2 separate regions of the Homo sapiens genome follow, and region 2 is linked to region 1. The links come from fine-mapping of genetic effects on gene expression. A gene starts in region 1. The other region holds a variant in brackets. All regions are shown on one strand. Distances are between the middles of the regions.

Region 1 (9,569 bases):
CTCATTTTACTGGCAAAAGAGCTTGAACACCCAGGGAGATTAAACTTTTACTCAAGGTCATAAAACTCAGAGAATATACTTTCAGGACTTTTTATTATGAACAATTTATTAGAGAAAAAATGAGAGAATGGTATAATGAACTTCTACATACCTATCACATAGTTAATTGTTCATTTTTTTGCCAATTTATGTAACAGTGAAACAGTAAAAGAACTAACATAAAGAACTCTATTTTTGTTCACGGGGTCTTTATCCATTCATGCATGGAGGGGAGGTTAATTTTAGAGCAGTGAGATAATATGCAAAAAAAATGTAGTTTTAAAAACTAGCTCTGGGATTAAAGGGAAAGTATGTAAACAACTATGGATTGTTAAAAATTTACAGGAGGGTTGTGACCTGGAGAACAAATATAAATATAATCTTTAGATAACTTCCATTTGACAAGAAATACAGGGGCTAGAACATAAGCTAAACAACAACATGTAGAAGCAGCCCAGGAAATTAACATTCTATAGAGACAACTTATCTGTTCTCTTCAGCAAATCAATGCTTGGGCTCACTGGAACATCAGGACAAAGACATTCCCAACCTTCTTGGATCCTTGATGGTGCTCAGATGTCTCCAGTCAATGGTCACCTCTTGATCGTAAATCCCTTCTCTTCCCCATGCCCTTAACATAAAGAGCCTGAAACTTGTACTCACTTAAGAGGCTACTTTGGGTTGCTAGTCTGCCATCTTCTCAGTTTGCTGGCTCTCTGAATGAACCTGCTTTTCCTCCCACCAACTCTCATCTCTCATGTTTGGCTTTGAGGTGTGAGTTGCCAAACCCGGGTTTGGCTACCCTTACACCATCCTTTTATTTTACTAGATGATTTATGTTACAGCTAGAAACATCATGACATTTAAACGCTAATGGTCACTTCCCATCTCTAAAAATTACATAATTTTTCTTTTATAATCACAATACTGATTTATTCATACCAAGATCCAACTGAGGTACACAGTTTCCTTTATATGTCTTATAAGGCTCTTTTATTCTAGAAAAAGCACTGATTTGTTGAAGAGAACAGAGAAATTGTCTCTATAGAATGTTCACCTCCTGGGTTGTTTCCTCATGTCATTGTTTAACTTATGTTCTAGCCCCTGTATTTCTTGTCAAATGGAAGTTATCTAAAGGCTATGTTTACTCTCGTAACCATTCCACTATGGAACAAGAGTCCTGGCTTTCTAGTTTACTGTCAGTCATTGACTAGGGAAATTCATTTAGCCTTTCTGAGCCTCAATTTCTTGTTTGTAAAAAGAAGCAATGATTCTAAATGAGATAATGAATATGGAAGTGCTAAAATAATGTTAGAACTTATAAAACTGTCTGAGTTCAAATATCAGGTAGCCACTTACTAGCTGCATGACCTTGGGCATATTAATTAACTATTCTTCCTTCATTTTCCTCACCTTAAGGTGGGAATCAACCTTGTTATAAAGATTAAGAAATATATTGTGGTCTGGGTGCGGTAGCTCATGCCTGTAATCTCAGCACTTTGGGAGGCCAACGCTGATGGATCACTTGAAGTCAGGAGTTCGAGGCCAGCTTGGCCAACCTGGTGAAAACCTGTCTCTACTAAGAATTAAAAATTAGCTGGGCATGGTGGTGGGTGCCTGTAATCCCAGCTACTTGGGAGACTGAGGCAGGAGAGTGGCTTGTACCTGGGAGGCAGAGGTTGCAGTGATCCGAGATCACACCACTGCCCTCCAGCCTGAGGCCTGAGCAACAGAGCGAGACTTCATCTCTCTCTCTCTCTCTCTGTCACACACACACACACAATATATATATACACACATACACACACATATTATATATATTATATATGCAATCTATCTATATATACAGTGTGTGTAAATATATATATATATAGAGAGAGAGAGAGAGCATATGCAAAGCCTTTAAAACACTGCCTGTATGTAATAGGTCCCCCAGTAAATAATCAATAAAAAGGTCATGTAAATGTTATCAATATCAATACACTCACCACAGGGATACTTTTTAAACAGCAGAGAACCTAGGAAAAAAAATAGAAAATGTACAATTGCGGAACTGGGCTATGTTGCAACATCCCTAAATGCAAGAACTTGTTGCCCAACTATTAAGAAAATCTAGGGATTCACTGTGTCTGTTCATGATGTCTCATCTTACGAAGTTTGAGAGAGGATCCGGGTGCTTTAGGAATGATTAATAGACACAGACAAAAAAAGGAAAATAAAATGGGCAGAAAGAAACATTAATTTTGCATGTACTTGAGCAATCACAGTGGAAAGGGGCAAGAGGTTAAGAAAACACTCCAATATCCTCCGTCTCCCTACATTGTTTTCAGTATCCAGGATAAATCAGATTATATCAAAATATAAAGTGCTCTTAGCTATCCTATACCAACCCCTGTTTTATACTTGACATCAAGGTTCTACTTACCTAAAGAACTTGCTTGACTTCCTACAGCAAAGGGATAAAGCAGTGCAGCCTGGGGCCCATGTCCAGCCCACCTGACAGCTCCCCTTAGGAATTTCTCTGTCTCTCAATCTCTCCTTCCTTCCCTCTCTCCTTCCCCCTCTCTGCCTCTCTCCCTTTCCTCCCCTCCTTCACTCTCCCTCTTCCTCTCTCCCTTTCCTCCCCTCCTTCACTCTCCCTCTCTTCCTGCTTCTCCGCACCCCAACCCCCACTTTCTGCCTTTCCAGGGGCAAGGGCAGGGGTCGAGGCCAACTCTAAGCCTCTTCCAATCCTACCACGCCGCCCCGCTCCCCCCAGCACACAAGGGGACTTGCAGCACTACCAAAATAAAACCTGTGTCCTCCCGGCTCCCCAGATGGGTGGCGCTGTCAGTCCCCGGCTTCCTGACACCCAGCTCCTTCTCCTCCCAGCCGGGACTCGAGCCCGCCGCGGCCGCGCCCGTGACCGCGCCCCGCGGAGCACCCCAGCGCCCTGTGTGCTCACTCACTGCGCGCCTCGCCAGCACTCGGCCTGGAATCCAGCGCTCAACGCAGTTCCCGCTCGTATTTGAGGAAGCAAAGGCTCCAGAGCTCCAGCTGGGCGGGAAACGGAGCAGGTGGGGCTAGGGGTTTGAATCGCCCGCCTTTTGGGAAAAGGTTGTCTGCGAACCAATTGGTTACTTTCTTTCACTTTTAAATCAGCCGTGCCTCTTCCGGCCTAAACCTCAGGTAGCTACAGCGTGCAGTACTTGACGCTGTGTTTATATCAGACAGCACTGCCAGTCTGAAACAAAACTTTCTGAATTTCCTAATCCCCAGAGCCAGCGTGAGAAGTAGACTTGAGCCTGTTCTCTTCCCTTGAACTTTTCTTTTACACGAGTACAACAAAAAACAAGAACAGAGACAAGTCGTAGTGTTGCTAGTGATAAGGCAGATTTTTCACCAAGCCTAAAAAGCTTTTAAAAATCTGGTCCCATAACCAAAGGGGTTCCTAGAAAGATTTCTTTATGCCTAGGGACAAAATAAACTCAGCGCTTGAAAAACTGAGCAAAAAGAAACTGGAGTTCAACCTGATGCAAGATCTACTTTCTCCACCTTTGAGATCAGGGAGAGCCTCAAGAAGGTTGAAGGGACTTCAGGGCACACACTGATTCTGAGTTGAGGGTTGGGAGGTTGATTAGGTCTTGCTGGAGCCTCCAAGAATGTCAAATGTTGGCTCCCAGTAATATCAAAGCAACCTGTTGATAAGACAAAGCTAAGTTTCTTGCTCACTTAGGTAATGGAGAACAATAACTTGACAGAATTTAAGTGGTGTCTCAGAGAGGGAAGAGCAAGTTTGGGCTATATGTATTGAGATTTTGAAGTCCCATTGTAAGTCTAATATTTAATGAGGGGAATTGGTTAGAATTGAGTCAGCTACGGGTAAAAGTTTAGGATTGGTAGATAAAACAAGGCTAGGATTTTGAGGTAAAGGTTCAAAGTCTTAGAATGTAAACTGTTCTTTGATGTTTTCCATTGAAGAGTGGTTGGATCTTTGAAGAAGATACTGGATTAAGCAATAAAGATATTTGCAACTTTCCGGTCCCTGGCAAAAGTTTCTTGAAATAGTAAATGTATGTTGATGAAAATAATGGAATAAGAAGTCAGGTTAATGTAGTTGGCAAGCTATGTGAGTGTAGATGGCTTCAGTTCTCACAATAGTGAACATACCTGATAATGTACTCAACATTTGTCACTTAGAGTATTTTATCCTGGAAAGAAGCGTAGTTGGGAAAACGCACTTGAGATGATGTTTGCTGCACACAGAATTCGGACACAGAGATGTGAATCTCCTTAGGAACCATTTTCATAAAGTTAACATTGGGTCTTAATAGACATCAGTTTTTAAAAATTAGAACAGGCTTGGGCACTGCAAAAGAAAGACACATCCGTTCACTTGGCTGTTCTTTTTAAGTTTCCAGGGAGAGCGTCAGTGCCCCTTTCAACAATAAAAGCCCGCAGGAGTGCAGATTTTATTTACCCTGTCCCCACCAGCATCCTGCTGCGGCCAATGAATCCTGGCAAAACTCCAGGTCAGCCCCAGAACCAAAGAGTAACTCACCTAAGAGGAAGGTCCGTTCCCACCAAGTCTCAGACGCCTGAACTCGTGATTTTTAGGGACTTTCCCTTCCAGTCCCTTGGAATCCAGCACTTTGGTTGGAGAACAGAACTCACTTGGGGAATGGCGCGTCTGGCCAATGGAATGAAAGATACTGGAGTTTGTCTTTTCTCTTCAGGCAGCAACTCACCTACTTCGGAAGCCGATTGGCTGCGCTGGGGACACCTGTTGGCGTGCAAAAAAGAGTGGTTGGAAAGGCAAGGCCGAGGGGGCGCGCCTACCCTACCCACCCACAGCGCTCCTCCTTGACGCCGCGAGCAGGACCCTGTCTCACTGACCCCGTGCCCACGGCGGTCCTTGCCTGCTTCTATTCTCCCGGTTTCCCCAGTCCCGAGTATTGGAAAGCGAGAGCGAAAGCGAAAGCATCCTAGTCGCCGGTAGGCTGGCCTGGGCCGGGCTGGAGAGGGAGCAGGAAATAAAAACTCGGGTGTGGGAGGAGCTGGGACGCTGGCGGCAGAGCCACTGTGGCAGCTTGAGTCTCGCGCGCGCAGGAAGCGGAGGTGGAAGTTGGGGCGCAGGAATGTGGCTGTCCCCGCCTGTAAATCATGGTTGGGGAGGAGTCGCGGAGGCACCAGGCTGGGGTCTGCAGCGCGCCATCTGCTGCAGCACACAGGAGGCGCTGAGGCTAGTTGGGTAAGTGGGGAGATTTCAGGCACTTCCGAGGGGGCGGCATCCCCAGCAGGTGGGATAGGCCCGGTGACTAGGACAAAATCACGAAGAAGCCGCGGATGCAGGAAGAGTAAACTCCCTTGTCATAAATCGATTCTCCAAACGTTCATCAATATGTGGAGACGTTTATGATAGTGATGAAGAAGATGATATGGGCTCTAGGAATATGCATCTCAAAGCTGATGATCGAAGAAGATTGGAGAGGGTTTTCAAGGCAGCCTGCTGTTTAAGGACCTGCATTCTGAGTAGATGTGTATTGGAAAAGGCGATTACAGTCACAAAGGGGACAACTTTTATGCAATTGACAGAGGACTATATGATGTATATAAACAGATAGGGTTGAAAGGTGTGTTGGTAACTACAAAACACATGGGAATTTGAAGGAAGGAACTGGCCTTAAATGCATGTACAATACACCAAGAGAAGCTAAAATTACTGCTTCATCTTCTGTGGGTTCTTTGGGGTTTGGATAGAGTAACCTTAAAACATATTTGAATGCTGACTTTTTCTATGAGACTCACTTTTGGAATCTGTGCATTCCTACATTCACAAAGGGTAATCACAGCTAGTACCCAGCATCCAAACAATAGCAGCCAATAATTCTAATCTGGAGAAAATTTTCTTTTCTCTCTCTTTCTCTCTCTCTCTCTCTTTCTTTCTTTCTCTTTCTTTCTTTCTTTCTCTTTCTTTTTTTCTTTTTCTTTCCTTCTTTCTTTCTCTTTTTTCTTTTCTTCTTCATTCCTTCCTTCCTTTCTTCCTTTCTTTTTTCTCTTTATTTCTTCTCTTTCTTTCTTTCTTCTTTCTTTTTTCTTTTATCTTTCTTTCTTTCTCACTTTTCTCCTTCCCTCCCTCCCTCCTTTCTTCCTTCTTTCTCTTTTGCCTGTTTTACATTTTAATGTGTAAGCAAATAGTGATTAAAGGACAATAGGCTTAACATTTTCTAAAACATGGGTGTTCAGAATTGAATATACTGATAAAATTTGTTTCCAAAAGGAAGGATTATATACTAGGTGGGAGTGTAAATTAGTTCAACCATTGTGGAAAACAGTGTGGCAATTCCTCAAAGACTTAAAAACAGAACTACCATTCAACCCAGCAATCCCATGACTGGGTATGTACCCAAAGGAATATAAATCATTCTTTCATAAAGACACACGAACACGTATGTTCCTTGCAGCGCTGTTCACAATAGCAAAGAATCAACCTAAATGCCTATCAGTGGTAGGCTGGATAAAGAAAACTCAGTATACCATTGAATACTACACAGCCATAAAAAATAATGAGATCATGTCCTGTACAGGGACATGGATGGAGCTAGAGGCCATTATTCTTGGCAAACTAATGCAGGAACAGAAATCAAATACTGCATATTATCACTTATACGTGGGAGCTAAATGATGAGAACACATGGACACGCAGAGGGGAACAACAGACGCTGGGGCCTATCGGAGGGTGGTGGATGGAAGAAGGGAGAGGATCGGGAAAAACAACTAATGGGTACTAGGCTTAATACCTTGGTGGTGAAATAATCTGTACATCAAACCCCCATGACATGAGTTTATCTATATAGCAGACCTGCACATGTACCACTAAACTTAAATAAAGCTTTTAAAAAAGTTTTCAATCTACGAAGTTGAGATTTACTAGAAAGGTTATTCAAATGACTTTGACATATTGAAATATTAGTGCACAAGGAGATAATAAAAAGTTATTATTATAGAAGATATAAAACTTGTACCACCTAATATCTGTGCAACTAAATCTACTATGTACCAAGATATTTATCAATATTCTTTCTGAAATTTTTATGTCGTTTTGTATAATTTTAATCATATTTCTTTTAAAAACATTTATGGCATGATAAGTTATGTGTTGGCTTATTGCGGAAAGGGCCTAAAATAACAATTCTTAAACTTTATATATATTTGCAATGAAATATATTTTGGCTTTAGACAATAGGAACATAACCTTTTTTTGGATGAAAGATTACTGTCACATTTTTTCTTCATTATCTGACATCTTTGTCATTTTCTTAACTTATATTACTAATTAAAGTTCCCTACCTTTTCAAAAGAAAAAAAGTCTAATATTGACATTTATTTATCTGTAGCAAACTTTAGCTATTGTTTTTTCTACTAATTTCAGGCAAAAATGAAGTATTAATTTCAGTTACAAAATATAGCTTAGTAAGATCTAAACCAAATAAAATTCACATTCTAAAGACTACAAACAAGTTTTAAAAAGATATTTTGGCCATTAAACTTATTTATTAAATTTAACTTTTGTCTTCTAAGAACCAGAGTTCTTACAATTACTATGAAGCTCCTATTCTATAATCATAGCCTGGGTTCCTTGTCAATGCTTCATTAAACAGGCTATTTTTTTCTTTTTTCTTTTTTCTTTTTTTTTAGAGACAGAGTCTCACTGTGTCACCCAGGCTGGAGTGAAGTGGCATGATCTTGGCTTACTGAAACCTCCATCTCCCAGGTTCAAGCGATTCTCATGCCTCAGCCACTTGAGTAGCTGGGACTACAGGATTTCGCCATGTTCCCCAGGCTGGTCTCAAACTCCTGAACTCAGGCAGCCCGCCTACCTTGGCCTCCCAAAGTGCTAGGATTACAGGTATGAACCACCGCGCCCGGCCAGTTTCTTAATTCTTAGACTAAATCTACGGGGGACACACTTTTGCCAACATTAGCTGCAAAGGGTTTTTTCCTCCACACTTAAGTCACGGTCAGTAAGTAGTTTTTTTTTTTTTCCTGTGTTTTTGTTTCCTTGTTTGTTTTTATTTGGGAAAATGCCTCTTTTGATAGTAATGAATTATTTTTTACACGCAAGGTCAAAAACAGCATGGAGTGAATTTTCTTCCACACGTATACACCCTTTTTTATTCCTGCCTCTGGCTGTAAATAGTTGCACAGTTAAAAGCAGGATGGACTTAACGGAGTATCATTTATATTTATAATTGCTGTATTTGTAATTCTGCTACAGAAATGAATTCTGTTATTATAATCAAAGGTTACACTGTTATCTGAATTCTTGAAAAATATGTAAAAATACTGCTCTTGTGGCTTTTCATAGGTTTATAGTCTATAAACACTAATTTTAATCAATAATTCATATCATTTATGATTAATTTTATGAGAAACAGATAACAATAATAGACATAGGCATAATTATTTTGTGACAGCTGGTGTGTTTGGAGTATTTACTATCACCCTTAAATATGATACCCTGGCTGGAAAACATTAATTTGATAACATACCTTTAAGAAATTATATAAAATATGCAAAAGCATAACCTTATGCACATTTTTAAAACAAGGCCTTCTTGTAGGAAAAAGATTACACCATGCATGAAGATGTTTTGTTTTCTATCATTATTTGAATTTATTTTAAAGGCCATTACTGCTCTGTGTGTGTATATATATATATATACATAAATATACATATATATACACACACGTATGAAACCAAAAATTCCAGGTTCATCATATTATACACAGATTTTCTTTTTTGTTGCCCTTATTCTTAATCATTGAAAGCACTGAAAATCAATACCTGTTTGATAAGATGTGCAATCAAGTTAAAAATATCACAGTTATTATATATAAAACTTTCTTAAGATTACTTTTGTAGTAACCTTTAAAAGGGGTGGTGGTGGTGTGGGATCCCTTGGCAAAGTCCAACTTGGCTGCTTAACTGCTTTCATTGGCCTGGCTAACACTTATGTCTGCCCACGGAAGCAGCAGGGAGTGTGTAGAGGGAAATGACCTCTGCTGCTGTACTGCTTTGAGTTCCTCTCTGAGCTTGGCATTTACATGTGTCTGTTTCATTTAATACTCTCAATAACCCTGTGGGGAAGGTGAGATTATCTTCGCCATTTCACAAAAAGCTTTAGCAAATAATTGTGCAGAAACATCCTTATGAGGATTTGTATTCCCATCTGAAACTAGAAGCCAAACTTATTCTATTGAATGATGGCTGCCTCTCAGATCTAACTGCAAAAAGGCACAGTGGCTTACTTCTTCCTAGTATAATGCTTTTTCATTAATCCAATAATCTATTCAAGGTATAAATTTCGGGTGGCAATTTACAAGATCCGGTGCCACATTCTATGAAGGGTAAAATGTTGACCCCTGCCCTCAAATAGGGAAGACAGAAGAGGTACACAAATAATATCATTTCCACATGGTTTCATTCATTTAAGAGATGTGTTAATTCCTACTTTGTGCCAGGTATTGTACTGGACATTGGGGAACAGA
Region 2 (9,569 bases), 56 kb after region 1:
AGAACAATAGACACTATGGACTCTAGAGGGTGGAGGGAAAGGGGCTGGGTTAGAAAACTACCTATCGGGTACTATGCTCACTACCAGGGTGATGGGATCTGTCCATACTCCAAGACTCAGCATCATGCAATATTTGCGTGTAACAAATATGCACATGTACCCCCTTTATCTAAAAGGAAAGTTGAAATTACAAACTAAAAAGTAGCCAAAATTAGATTATTTTACATTTCAATTCTACATAAGGCAAAACCAAACACATAATTTTAATAGTAGACTTTGGTAACAGATGAAAATATCCTAATGCCAAATCTGGTAAAGAAATAACAAAAAGAGAGTTACTGACCATATTGGCTTATGAATACAGATGCAAAAATTCTGAATAAAATATTCAGTAGCATATGAAAAGAATGTGAACATGAACAGTTTGTTTTAGAAAGGCCAGAATGAGTTTGATCAGAAGATCTTTTAGGGTAATAAATTAAAGGAGGAAAAAATTACATGAGTATATAAATTGCCATAAAAAGACAAAAATGAAATAACATAAAATCTACCGTTCATTCTAAATATAATTTCTATGAAAATGGGAAAACAGGAAAGTGCTCTAAGCCTGTAAAGACAGAATTAAATGTAATTCCAAAGGTAAGTTTTTATAGCTATTTCATTAAAATCAGGAATGAGACAAGGATAGAACTTTTATTATGGCTACTTGGTATTGTTTTCTTAGGTTGTACATTATACAATAAGGCAAGAAAGTAAAAACCCATACAAATATTGGCAAAGAAGCAGCAAATTACTTTGTTTATAGATTACAGTATTACACATTTAGAAAATATAAGAGACTTCGACAGAAAACAAAAACAAATAACACCCCAGGCAAACAAAGAAGATTTTAAAGCATAGTGTGACATATTTGGAAATGAAGAATATAAATAGAAAGCAATAACAAAATAATAATGCTCAGAAATAGAAAAGGAAAAATAATTTAATAATCTTAAAAAATAATATAAAATACCTAAGGGTAAACTTAATGGAAAAATCACGTAGTTTACCTCAGGAAAACACTAATATTTTACCAGATGGCATAGAACAGAAACTGAAAAAAGTGAGAGAAAGACCATATTTCTTGATAAAAATATTTAGTATCACAAAAATATTAATGCTTCCACAATTGTCTAAAAAAGCTCCTCCAATACAAATCACAATTGCAATACTTAGTTGGGGAAATTGGGGAACTGAAAAATTAGTTTTTGTTCATATAGCTCTGAAGTTTATAAGAAATAGGAAAGCAAGAAAAAGATTAGTGAAGGGTGATTTGCTTTATTAGATATTAAAATTTGCCACAAAACAATGAAATAGCATGAGAAAAGATTAGAAACAAATACAGAAATAGCTACAAAAATATATAAAAGTTATATGACAAAATAGACATTTATGTTTCAGTAGCAGAATGACTTACTTAATAAATAGCACTAACGTAATTAGCCAGCCATTCGGGGGATAAATATAAAAGAATGTTAATTCATGCTATTCAAAAATATATTCCAAATAGAATGAAGTTTGAAATGTCAAAAGTAAAAATTAACTCACTGTAAGACAAAATGAAAAAAACAACTTGTACGATCTTGGTTTAGGAAAAATCTTCCTAATTATTAACAAAAAAACTCCCAAAGCCTCAGGAATCATAGTGAAAAAGATAATATATTTGATTACATGAAAATTAAAAATTGCTTCATGTGAAAATCTATCAAATTAGAAAATAATTCTAAATTGGGCAACAAATTTGTAGCATACACCTTGTGTTAGTATCCCTCATATCCAAAACACATAGAGAATTTTAAGAATGACACAAAATCCCAGTGTAAAAATGGTCAAACAATATAAACAGTTCAGAAGTAAACCCAAAATGACTGATAATCATATGAAAATATATGTTGAATATCACTAGTCAGGGAAATGCAAATTAAATCTACAATAAGATGCCACTTTTCACCCACCAGTTTGGCATAAAGTAGAAGAAGGATAACATTCACTGCTGATGAGAATGTGGGAAACAATTCTTCCACAGATTGCTAATGGAAATAATACTGTGGAATCCTTTGGGAGGGTAGTCTGGCAGTGCCTACTTAGGATAAGATAAGCTCTGACTTGGACTTATCCCTTTTGGAAACCAATTGCATTGAGAAAAGTTTCCAGGATGTAAAGACATGTATACAAGGATGTTTATTGAAGCATTGTTTGTAATGGCAAAGAAGTATGAACAATTTGAACCCAACAGGAGGAGAATGACTGACTAAATAGCATTGCATTGACTCTATGGAACGCCACAGTTATTAAAACAAATATGTTAGTGCTGTATTGATTCACTCAAAGCAATGTCCATATGTCAAAGGCAAATTAAAAAGCGATTACAGAAGAGATCATAACTGAATATCCGTTTGTGTGTTAATATGGCCAAGGACACCGATTACCCCAAAGGGTAGGAATGGAGGAGAGGAGGGCAAAGAGGTGAGAGGTTATTAACTTCTTAAAATCATGTTGAATTTTTCCACTTCTATAATCAGCATATATTATCTTTCTGATTAGGAACCAACAAAGAAAAATTAATATTTTTCTAGAGAAATTCTCCTGCATCTCACCTTAAAAAGGTCTTCTTCAAAATTGCATTGATTTTCAATACTGAAAGAAACATGGTATACTATGGAATCAGACTAAGTGAATGTATTTCCAAGTAAATTGCAGCATATTTCATTCTTTCCATTTTTTTGGTCATATATGTGTGGCATGGAACTTTTATATTTTAATATTTTTGTTTGCTGACTCACTATATAAAAACTAGCCTTGTTCAAAGCAATGCATATATGAAGTTACAGCTTGATGGTACAGTTACATTGTTAAAATACACATAGTGACTACAAAGTTACTGAAGTAAAAAGAACTATTTGGTTCATACAGTTATTTAGCGTATGACACTTTGAAGAAATTGGACCATGGATCAAGTAAACTAACCATTAATCATCGATCCGAAATTGTCAGGAAACCAGGAGATCAAAAGAACATCCCTGGGGAAGGTATTAGGCTCAGCTTATTATTATGTGGGGGCTCAGTGTCTATACCCACCTGAAGCTGGGCTGGCCATGAGGCTTCAGTTCACTAATCAGATGTGCATGAAACAGACACAAAAAGGGGAAGTCTTTAGGGCCAAAAAATAGACCTAGGTTTGTATTACTATTTCAGCTTAATCGTGTATTCCTTGTGTGTCCTCGGCCAATAATGGCTAATTATGGTAAATACTATTTAGAATTATGTGCTATATACTAAGTGTTTGACATGTGGTATCTCATTTAAACCTTGTGTAATCCTCTGAAGAATGTCCTCCTATTTTTCCCATTTTAACAGATGATAAAACTCACAGAAGGGCCTATGGTTATATAGCTAGTAAAAGTGGCAGAGTCCGTTGAACTTGAATTCAGATTGGGGAATGCTTTAACAGATGGTATCCAGCAGCTACCTGACTGAATATTTCTCAGTGTTGTTTCCTCATCTCTAAATTAAAGATATTAAAGCTCACTTTGTAAAATTGTTCTGATGATGACAGTCACTAACGAGTGAGGTGCTTCCACACAGTTGACACAAAGTAATTGTGTGTCCCTTCCCTGGTTCCTGAGAAGCAACTTTTATTGTTTTCATGACAGGGTCTCACTCTGTTGGCCAGGCTAGAGTAGAGTGGTGTGATCTTGGCTCACTGCAGCCTCAACCTTCTGGGGCTCAAGCCATCCTCCCACCTCCATCTCCTGAGTATCTAGGAGTATAGGCACGCATCACCATGCCCTGCTAATTTTGTTTATTTTTTTGTAGAGATGAGGTCTCATTATGTTGCACAGGCAGGTCCCAAACTCCTGGCCTCAAGCGATCCTCCTGCCTTGGCCTCCCAAAGTGCTGGGATTACAGATAAAAGACATCATGCCTGGCCATGAGATGTAATTTTACTGGTAGACTACTGCCTTGGTTTTTGGTTCTAAGTCACTGTTCCAATATCTCAGACAGCCAACTTTCCCTGTAAATTGGCCTCCATTCAGCCCCTGCAGGTGACCCCTGCCACCTCAAAGGGCCCTTAATCTGTGAGTGTCAGCTTTGTCCTTTTCCTCCCCTTCCCCCTTGACCCCCTTTCCCTAATGAGTCTTATGCTTTACAGGAAGAGTGTTAACATGTGGCACTCACGCAAGCTGCCCAGTACTGAAGGAGTGTTTTAAAATACTCACATTTCCTTTCACCCTATAAAAGCAGCCATGGTGTCTGAATTGGACAGTTCCTCAGGCCCTTTGGACCTGCCTGGCTCCACCAGTCCCTGTCTGTGTGCCTACCTGTTTTTGAGGTCGGATAATAACCATCTGATACTCGGGCCAGGAGTCCACCAACACTTCCATGTTGAAGGGGTTCCCGTGATTGATGTGAAACAGAGAGCCATACACCTGAAGGAGGGATGAAAGGGAATAGGAGAGGCTGAGATCCCCAGAGATGGGGGTCTGTATGTGAAGAGGAAGAGAAAAATGGAGATCAAGAGACAGTACTGGGACCAAGTCAGTGATGATGAGATGAACAGCATCTCCAGGACCATACTGATGGACATGAAGTCACCAGCAAACAGGCAGAACTCACAGGGAGGTGTTCTTGTGATACCACAGAGCTACTGTGCAGTAGCTGGGCACTTGTTAATGCACTTAGCACTTATATTGTATGGATTCATTCAGTGTCCACAACAACTTTAAGAGGTAGGTACTAATATTATTCCCATTTTATTAATGAAAAGACCAAACGTAAAGAAAGCTAAAGGCACAGGCACAATGATATCTGACTAAAAAATGGCAGCCTTGCAATGCATATTTATTGAATCTGGCCCCAAACCGATGTTCGTAGCCACCATTCTTCACCACCTCTCCAAATGAGTGATAAAATCTGCAGAGTCGGCCTAGTTGCCTGTTGCCGAGGAGAAGCAGCAGCTCTTAACATGCCTCCTTTGTCCCCAACCCCATCCTGTTTCCCAGCTCCAACCCTCTGCACAAAGTCAGGAAGGACGAGATTCATGAGCCTGTTAGTTTCTCATCCTCAACACCCCTACTCCCATACCCCAACCTCCCACTGTTCCTTCACCTTCAGGGACTCAGGAATGCTCCTTGCTAAAGATTTGAATAGGGCCAGCAGCCGCTCGGAATTATTCAATAGAATCATTTTGTGGGATGCTTCAGTCCTCAAGCCCTTCAAGAAAAAAACTCTGAAGAGAAGTGGAGGGAAAATGTTAAAGGACCAGATGAAATTAAAATGCACTTTACACATCTCCATTCAAGTAACACTCATGATGTAGGTACTGTTAGTATCGTCTTCATTTTGAATACGCCAAAGCTTA[G/AG]AGAGACTAAATAAATTTCTCAAGTTCTTACAGGGATAAACGACAGAGTCATATCCAAAACCCATGCATTTCCTCTCTGGTGGAATGAATAAAAGTGAATATTAAGAGTTCTGTGAGCTTCCCACATGCCTGTAGCAGAACACTCCACCACCATCACCATAACTTTTCCTTGTATTTTGCACATCAGATGCCTGAGGAGTCTTCTTTCTTCTGGAATAGAAAATATCTAAGAACAGTTGTGACTGGAAACCTCAGAGCAGGAGTTGGCAAAGATTTTATTTAGTTTCTTAGGGCTAAATATTTCAGATCTATAACCATTTAGAAATTTTTCCCAGTTTCATTACAAAAATAAGAAAAAAACATGGAAAATTTTGAAACATATCTGTAAATTTCGTTCGATATAACACTTGGAATTCTTACAAATGTGACAAAGAGTATAACAGTTGACATTCCATAGGGCCAAACCGGTTCTTAGCCAAAAGGGACTTTACTGAGAGCCCTCATTTTTAAATGTAGTTCAATGCATTGTTTTTCATTTGGAATGTTCCACTCTAAGTTATCTTTAGTAAGATTTTGCCATTTGCGTAAGACTTCTCTGCCTCCCAGTCCTAATGTATAAGCCAGAAAGAACTCAGTTTTTCAGAAATTAAGGATTCCATTTTTACCGAAACTACTGGCTTTACTCTCAGGTTCTTTTGATTAACTTAGCCAATGAATTTCCCTACCTAGGTGGAGAAGAAAAATGAAACAAATGGGTAGAACACAAAAATCCCTGTGAATTTCCCAAAGCCGAATTTTATGACTGCTGCGACATTACTGCTTACTACCACTTCCTTTATGACCCAGTCAGCTGTTAGTGGCCTCTACTGTTAGTGGCCTCTAAGTGGATCCAAGCCAGTTAATTCCCAGATCAAATTCATTCCTAGACCCAGTCCATTTTCTGTTGCAACTCCAAAACCAGTTTGGATCACAAATTTGCTCAAGGAAACTCAGAGAGCTCAAAACACAAATGTGTGAAGCTCCAAAATGCAAGAGGGAGCTTACCTTTGATCCTCAGCTGCTCTGAGAGATCAATGGACACAAGTGGATCCTGCAGGTACCTTCTGTGTTTACTCAGTGCTCCTGGGGATACTAGAAGCTCCACTTCAGATTCTGCTTCTGACACAATCTGATAAAATAAAAACTTCAGCTGACTTAAATTTAAAGGAGTTTAGTTGAGCAATGAACAATTCATCGATCCAGCAGCCTTCAGAATCACAGCAGATTCATGGAGGCTCCAGGGGTGTCTTGTGGTCAAAACAAATTTATAGGGAAAAAAAGTTAAAGTGACATCCAGGAACCAGAAATGAGTTACAGAAACAGTGAGATTGCTGTCAGCTGGGCGTTTGCCTTATTTAAACACAGTTTGAGCATTCAGCAGTCTATGAGTGGTGATGTAAGGCTGCTGGGACTGGCCAACATTCAAGTATTGTTACAGGTGCACACTCCTAAATTAGGTTTTCAATTTTGTCTGACTATTAAGCTAGGTTACTCTTCACCCACAAGGACTCAAATGAAGTACAGAGTCCTTCTCAGACCATATTTAATTTGCTTTAACACTTTGTAGCAAAATTCATTGAAAGGATTGTCTACAAATGCTATTTCCAATCCTCCTCCTAATCTTCTCTAACTGGGTTTTTGCTGCTACCATTTTACTGAAACATTTTTTAAAGCCATCAGTGATCTCTATGTTATTAAATCCAGTGATCAGTTATTGCTTCTGTTCTTAATAGATCATTCTTTAAGACTTTCCTCACTTGGTTTCCAAGAAAACACACTCTCTTCGTTTTCCTTTAACTTCACTGGTTATTTCTCAGTCTCCTCTGTGGACCCTTCTTTTCTCCCCAACTTCTTAATTTTGCATCACTTTAGAGTTCAATCATTGGCCTTCATTTGTATCCACACTTACTCCCTGGTAATCACATCTGGTCCCATGGCTTTAAAATCAATCTGCTTGCCAATGACTAATACATTTATATTAGTATTAAAACTCTTTTCCAAACTCAAGACATATGTATCTAATGGCCTGTTTCATATCTCTTGGATTCCACCCAATAGCCATCTCAAACTCATTATGTCTCAGATCAAACTCCTTATCCACCCTCTCCACCCAGCCTACTTCACCTGTAGTCTTTCTCAATTAAGTTGATGGCAACTCTACCTTTTCATCTATTCAAATAAAAACTCTTGGAATTACTCTTATGTATCTTTTCCCCTCCCACATTATATCCAATCCATTATGACATTCTGCTCATTCTGGTTGGGAGAAAATTCTTCATGCCTCTCACATTTCTGCATGTCTTAGGAGCAGAGACATTGACAGCCTTTGCTCCTAACTTTTCAAGGATGTTTGTAAAGAGTACAGCTTGGAAGCTAGAGATACTGCTTTCTTCTGAAGCAGAAGGCAGTTTTGCTGCAACACACATCTATTGCATTTGCGACATTAATCTGTCTTTCTGTATTTCCTCTGTAGGACTTGTGGAGCAAAGATGACTGACACAAACACATAACTCATTCTGCCTGGTGAAGGCATATAAAATCCTGCCTTTACCTGGAAGCTTGTGTCATCTGCCAGCATTTCTGCATCTGTGCCCCTGTAAACTTTTAGATGCTTCACAGTTCTCGGCAGTCTTTTCTGGATGGAGAATGTCTTTAGTCTTTTCTCTATGTAAAACCAGAATGCTCTTTTTAAAACAAAAGCCACATTTTGTTATTTGTTGTGCAACTCCTGCTGTCACTCCCAATCTCATTCAGAGAAAGATATATAAAAGCCTTATAACAGCCCTCTAAGTTTTCCATGACTTAGAATCCAGTCACCTCTCTGACATCCCTCCAGTCATGTCCCTGACTTCAATCTCTTTGCCTTCTCTGCTTTAGGCACTTTGCTGTCCTTTTTCTTCTGCTTGCATTCTGTTTTCTCATTATACCTATAGAAAACCTTATTACCTTATTTAAGTCTTCACCTTAAAGCCACTTGCTCGATGAGGCATCCTGTGACCATCCTATTAACAATTACAACTGTTCCCTTAGTTTCTCTGCAATGCTCCTGTTCCCCATGGTCATTCTCTGCCTCTTATCTTTTTCTTTTTTTGACAGGGTCTCAGTCTGTCACCTAGGCTGGAGTGCAGTGGCTGGATCATGAGTCGCTGCAACCTTGAGCTTTAAGGCTCAAGCATCCTCCCACCTCAGTCTCCTGATTAGCTGGGACTACAGGCATGAATCAATGTGCCTGGCTAATTGTCTTATTTTTATGTTATAGAGATGGTGGGGGGGTGGTCTTCGTTTTGCAGGCTGGTCTCAAACTACTGGTTATAGTTTTATAATTTTCTGTGCCACACTCTGATACCCCAAAATATCTAGCAGAGACAAACATAAAACCCCGAAAAAAATGTATGCTGACAATTCTGAAGACATTTCTATTTTTGTATTACAATAATTTTTATGCTAGCTTCTTAAAAATTTACTTAAGTAACGTGAATGTAAAAAAACTTTTTTACTTAATCTAGGAGAGTTCTTTTATGTAGAAGCCAATTTCTAGTCACAACATATAATGTAATACGTGTGCATGCACATAAACACATCTATATGTATATACACACGAAGATCCAAAAGCTTTTACCTTGGAACTCTAGCCATGAGATAGTAATATAGTCTCAACTGTCTGCAAACATGTCCACATGGCTGAACTTTGTTAGCCTTGATAAGTAATCCAGGGAAGGCTGTGAACCAAATTTTAAATAAAAGGAGTTACTGTGGCAGTTTGATTTTTAAAGGCCAAAACTCCCTATACTGCCAGAACACTGGGGTCAAAAATGGCACCACATGAGATCATCACATATTAACCTGGCCTGACCCTGCTTAAAATAGCAGCACAAAAGCCCACTTTCCCATTCAACAGCAAACTCCAGATTCCAAACTATACTGGAGCCAAACAGTGTCACAAAAGAGTATCAGTTTATCAAATTCGAATTTCCCATGACTGTATCAGACACATGCAAACAATTACTAAAACACAATCCAACTGCTGCAGCATCAAACAAGCCCCAAAAGTCTACAATGTGAAAGAGTTGTGGTGCTTCCTCTCTCCATTGGTTGGGCTCAATCGACCTGAAATAAAAATTCCTTCAGA

What was found.
Region 2: its variant is fine-mapped to the expression of FAM111A-DT in fibroblasts (GTEx, PIP 0.91).

What each region holds. Positions count from the first base shown.
Region 1 is chr11:59,138,315-59,147,883 of GRCh38, reverse strand. It overlaps FAM111A-DT (FAM111A divergent transcript), which reads left to right and starts at 5,076. Exons shown (of 4, transcript NR_110184.1): 1 at 5,076-5,269; 2 at 7,717-7,927. FAM111A (FAM111 trypsin like peptidase A) reads right to left here and starts at 5,028. Exons shown (of 6, transcript NM_001312909.2): 1 at 4,938-5,028; 2 at 4,580-4,801; 3 at 4,189-4,387; 4 at 2,028-2,057. It also overlaps the pseudogene LOC100422399. RefSeq lists enhancers at 3,333-3,442, 4,811-5,260.
Region 2 is chr11:59,081,964-59,091,532 of GRCh38, reverse strand. GLYATL1B (glycine-N-acyltransferase like 1B) reads right to left here and starts at 5,226. Exons shown (of 5, transcript NM_001355566.1): 1 at 5,149-5,226; 2 at 4,362-4,469. The coding sequence starts at 5,226. The variant G/AG (reference allele first, on the strand shown) is at 5,402.